Regions from separate parts of the Homo sapiens genome. Here region 2 is linked to region 1. Evidence: fine-mapped expression QTL. Tissue or cell type: unexposed skin. Region 1 holds a variant in brackets; the other region holds the start of a gene. All regions are shown on one strand. Distances are between the middles of the regions.

Region 1 (2,680 bases):
GTGAACTGAGATTGTGCCACTGCACTCCAGCCAAAAAAAAAAAAAGAATTGACTGAAAAGGGGCTGGGTGTGGCAGCTCATGCATATAATCCTGGCACTCTGGGAGGCCGAGGCAGGAGGATACATTGAGGCCAGGAGTTCGAGACCAGCCTAGGCAACGTCTCAAGACACCATCTCTACAAAAAATAAAAAATTATCCAGGGCCGGGCACGGTGGTTCATGCCTGTAATACCAGCACTTTGGGAGACCAAGGCGGGCAGATCTCTTGAGGTCAGCATTTCGAGACCAGCCTGGCCAACATGATGAAACCCCATCTCTACTAAAAAATACAAAAATTAGCCAGGCCTCGTGGCACACGCCTGTAGTCCCAGCTACTCCGAAGGCTGAGGTGCGAGAATCACTTGAACCCGGGAGGTGGAGGTTGCAGTGAGAAGAGATGGCACCACTGCACTCCAGCCTGGGCGACAGAGCAAGACTCCATCTCAAAAAAAAAAAAAAAACAACAAAAACACTTAGCCAGGCGTGGTGGTGGGCTCGGGCTCTGTAGTCTCAGCTACTTGGGAGGCTGAGGTGGGAGGATCATTTGAACCTGGGAGATCGAGACTGCAGTGAGCCATGATTGCACCACCGCACTCCAGCCTGGGCAACAGAGTGAGACCCTGTCTGAAAAAAGAAAAAAAAGCACCTGTTTCTGCGGGGATGTCAGGGGCCTCCTTGCAGGCCTGGCCCCACCCCCAGGCCCACACCCAGGCCCTGGTTCCACAGATCATGGCACATGGCAGGCAGGAGAAGGGACAAAGAGGAATAGAGGGAGGAGGAGGCCCGGAGCTCCAGGATAATACAGTGGGGGGACAACAGAACCCCAAATGGCCATGAAGTTAGCAGATCGAGGACCCAGGTGAGTGTCTCCTCCTTGGGGTGTCCAACTCTCATTTCTAGAGGACTTCATTCAACAGATACGTACTTAGCACAGTGCTGAGGGCACGGCAATGAATTGGACCCAGCCTGGGGGACAACGGGGTGGGAGATGACAAGGCAGGTTAGGTGGGTATGCCCTGGAGGGGGTGATGACCAAGTCAAGTCCTAGGACTGAGTTAGCTCGAACTAGGTTAGGTACAGCTCGGGCATACCAGGTGCAGGGGCCTCTTGAGGAGTGAACGGCAGACTTTGGGTCCTGCCCGCAGTCAGTGGGACTGGAGTACAGTTAAAGACTGGGTGTGGGATGTGCCGTGGGGAACCCCCGGGAGGCTGGATCTGCCATGTGCTGGTGTAAGGAGGACCAAGGGCTGCTGCTTACAAGTCAAGCAGGGGTCCCCGGGTGACCTGGAGATAGGGTGCAACTCTTCTTCTTCTTTTTTTTTTTTGAGACGGAGTCTTGCTCTGTCGCCCAGGCTGGAGTGCAGTGGTGCAATCTCCGCTCACTGCATCCTCCACCTCCCCAGTTCAAGCAATTATCCTGTCTCAGCCTCCCAAGTAGCTGGGACTACAGGTGTGCACCAACAGACTTGGCTAATTTTT[G/GT]TATTTTTAGTGGAGACAGGGTTCCCCCATGATGGCCAAGCTGGTCTCTAACTCCTAACCTCAAGCGATCCACCCACCTCAGTCTCCCAAAGTGCTGAGATTACAGACTTGAGCCACCGCACCTGGCCAGTTGCAGATTTTTTTTTTTTTTTTTTTTTTTGAGATGGAGTCTTGCTCTGTCACTCAGTCTGGAGTGCACTGGCGTGATCTTGGCTAACTGCAACCTCTGTCTCCCAGGTTCAAGCGATTCTCCTGCCTCAGCCTCCTGAGTAGCTGGGATTACAGGCGCACGCCACCATACCCAGCTAATTTTTGTATTTTTAGTAGAGATGGGGGTTTCACTAGGCTGATCTCCTACTCCTGACCTCGTGATCCATGCGCCTCGGCCTCTCAGAGTGCTGGGATTACAGGTGTGAGCCACCACGCCTGGCCCAGGTGCAGCTCTTTTAAAGTTCCTGCTGGGCTGGGCACAGGGGCTCACATCTGTAATCCCAGCACTTTGGGAGGCCAAGGCAGGAGGATTGCTTGAGCCCAGGAGTTTGAGACCAGCTTGGGCCACATGGCAAAACCCCATTTCTACAAAAAATATTTAATACAAAAATTAGCTGGATGTGGTAGCTTGAGCCTGTGGTCCCAGCTACTTGGGAGGCTGAGGTGGGAGGATGGTTTGTGAGTCCAGGAGACAGAGGTTGCTGTGAGCCAAGATCGCGCCTCTGAACTCCAGCCTGGGCGACAGAGTGAGACCCTGTCTCAAAATAAAGCTCCTGCTGTGACCAGGTGGGGCCACTAAGCACTCATAGGAGGCTGGGAAAAACTTAGTGTAGGGCTGGGGGCAGGGAGTGGCACCCCCCACCCTAAAGACGTCCTGCCAGAGCAAGGGTAGTGGAGACAGGTACCCTTGTCCCCGCCCCGGCACACATCACTGGGGCAAGGTGAGGGGCTGGGCCAAGTGCTACCTGCCCCTTGGACCAGGGACTGACTGCTACCTGGGGGGACTGAAGGGAGACAGTAGGGAGGAAGAGGCTGTGCCAGTGGGGGGCGGGGAGGCCCACTCCTATCCTGCACACATGCCCCAGGCTGAGAGAGGACGTGGTCTGCGGAGGCTGAAGGTCACAGCCCCACCTGCCCCGCCGTGCTGGGCTTTGCCCCTCATACCTGGAGA
Region 2 (2,680 bases), 100 kb after region 1:
AGCAAATAAAAGCTGCACAACTTTTCACTAAAAGATAATGCTTATGCAAGAAATCTTAGTCATGACGAGAGGATGCTTCCTTTGTAAAACATCCAATTTCATGTTCCTAAAATACAACATAAAAACTTCACGTCTTGGTTTTTTTGTTTGTTTAATTTTAACAAATACCAATCTCCTTCTAAACCTTCAAAATTTCAAACCTGTGTCTGCCCAGGGAAGGCAGGCATCAGCTCCTCCACAGGCAGTTTCCTTCCCTCCCTTTCCTCTAAGCGGGGAATCTCATTCCTAGTTTTCTGCCCCAGGGTCCTGTCAGTTCATCCCCGGCCTAAAGTCCCCTCGGGAGACGAAAAAAACGCCAAGTATCCCCGCAGAGATCGGGGTAAGACGCAGTTGAGTCTTGCACACGCCGCATCACGAGGCCGCGCGAGTACAATTTCAAAACTTAAGCTGCAGGTTTCATTTAAATTTTTAAAAAATTTTTGTAAAAATTAAAGGAGAAAACCTAGCTCCCCCTCCCCACGCCTCCTCCTCCCTCTCGGGTCCTCAAGGCCTAAAGCCAACCCGGGGAAGGTAATGGGGATGGGGGATGCGCTCCTCGCCGGCGAGGCCCCGGGACAAAGTGCGGGGCCCCGGGGGCGGCCGAAGCGGGCCCTTCTCCTTCCAGGGCCGGTGCGCGCCCCCCGCCGGATCCCCTGGAAGGATCGGCGGGCGCAGGCTGAGACTCAGCCTCCAGGCCCGCGAGCGGCCGGGGCGCGCTGACAGCTGCCCCGGGCCGGGGATGCGCGGCTGACCTGGTCTCGCGAGCCCCAGGCCCTACCCCGGCCCAGCCCGGCCCAGCCCGGCCCGCGCGGCTGGAAAAGGATACTCCCGGGTGCGGAAGGCCTCCTGAGTGTGCGGGATGGTGAAGAGCGGCTCCTCTCCGGGCAACGGCTTCACCAGCGGGAAGGGCTTGCGGCCCAGGAGCGGCGCCATCGCGGCGGCGGCGGTGGGGACTGGCGGCTGCTGGGGCCGGCCCCGCGGCGCAGCACTAGGCCCCGCGGCCCGGAGCGAGCGCCAGGCGCCCGGGGGTGGGGTGGGGGAAGGGAGGGGTGAGAGGGCGGCGCGAACTCCGGCTCCCTCACCGCCGGCGCGGCCGCGCGACAGTCATGGAGCGGAACGCCACGGCGCAGAGCTCCCGCGCACACCGCCGCGCCTCCCAGCAGCCCCCCGCCGACCTCCGCTTCGGGTCCCGGCGGCCGGCAGTCACGACTCCTCCTCAGCAGCACCGGAGGAAATTATTGAAAAATGGCGGGAGATTCCCCTCCTCCCCCGGGCCCGGCCAACGCACACACTAACTTGCTCCCCCGTGGCGCCGGTGGCGAATGCTCCAATAGGCGGAGAGCTGGTCAGCGCTCACAGCCTATTGGCTCGGAGGAGCTGCCGCTCCGCGCCTGGGTCCCGCCCCCCTGCCCCTGTCGCGTAGTTGGGTTGCAGCGCACTAGAGGGCAGTCTGAAGAGGTGAAAGGTCACGTTATGTAAGCGCCCGTGATAGGCGTGCGGGCCTCCGACGGCAGAGTTAAAAGTGGGGGACAGCGGGGGATGGAGAGGACGAGAACTCAAAGAGGTCAAGCCGGAGAAGCCCCTCGCATATACAGATACTGCGCCATCTGTCACCGACGGCGACACCGACATCCGGGCACCACTGTCCGTGTGGTGCGCCGGAGGGGGAGGGTGAGCGCGCGGCCAGGGGCTTTGTCTTTCCTCTTGGGCGCCTCCCCCTTCTTAAAGGCGCCGTGCTCGGCCACGCCCGGGGATGCGCGGGTGGGGCTGGGCTGCAGGGAGGGGTTGGCGGGAAGTGGCCCCGGGAGCTTACCCTACCAAAGGTTCTGCGGAAGGACAACGTGGGGGCCAGCTTTGCTCACCCCAGAGTTAACTTCTGGGCGGGAGTGTGGTTGAGATCTGGGTAGAAGTATACTGCTTGTTTCTAGGGGCTGGCTGGAAAGTAGAATATAGAAGCTTCTTTGGAGAAATAGATTAAAAGACGTACTTAGTTTTTTGGTTTTTGGTTTTTGTTTTTTTTGAGACGGAGTCTCGCTCTGTCGCCCAGGCTGGAGGGCAATGGCGCGATATCGGCTCACCGCAACCTCCGCCTCCCGGGTTCAAGAGATTCTCCTGCCTCAGCCTCCCAAGTAGCTGGAATTACTGGCGTGCACCACCACGCCCGGCCAATTTTGTATTATTAGTAGAGACGGGGCTTCTCCATGTTGGTCAGGCTGGTCTCAAACTCCCGACTTCAGGTGATCCGACCGCCTAGGCCTCCCAAAATTATCATTATTTTTTTTTTTGAGACGGAGTTTCACTCTTGTTGCCCAGGCTGGAGTGCAGTGGTGCAGTCTCGGCTCACTGCAACCTCTCCCTCCCGGGTTCAAGCTATTCTCTTGCCTCGGCCTCCCGAGTAGCTGGGACTACAGGTGCGCGCCACCACACCCGGCTATTTTTTGTATTTTGTAGAGACGGGGTTTCACCATGTTGGTCAGGCTGGTCTCGGACTCCTGATCTCAGGTGATCCACCCGCCTCGGCCTCCCAAAGTGTTGGGATTACAGGCGTGAGCCACCACGCCCTGCCAGAGCTGTGACTCTGGCTTTTTTTTTTTTTCTCCCATGATACTCAGCACCTGGCTCGGAACATTGTAGGTGCTAG

Direction of the effects. Alleles are on the strand shown, and positions count from the first base shown. SD is a standard deviation of normalised expression in the study named.
With allele GT in place of G in region 1, the expression in unexposed skin of the gene that starts at base 1,332 in region 2 is higher (small effect, 0.30 SD a copy in GTEx).

Evidence for each region. PIP is the estimated chance that this variant, and not a neighbour inherited with it, causes the effect.
Region 2: it holds the start of BAZ1B, and the variant in region 1 is fine-mapped to the expression of BAZ1B in unexposed skin (GTEx, PIP 0.93).

The regions. Positions count from the first base shown.
Region 1 is chr7:73,421,151-73,423,830 of GRCh38, forward strand. No RefSeq gene overlaps it. Among named protein-coding and RNA genes, the nearest start is that of FZD9, 11 kb to the right of the region's middle. The variant G/GT (reference allele first, on the strand shown) is at 1,519.
Region 2 is chr7:73,520,962-73,523,641 of GRCh38, forward strand. BAZ1B (bromodomain adjacent to zinc finger domain 1B) reads right to left here and starts at 1,332. Exons shown (of 20, transcript NM_032408.4): 1 at 866-1,332. The coding sequence starts at 972. RefSeq lists silencers at 576-1,455, 1,806-1,945 and an enhancer at 1,516-1,675.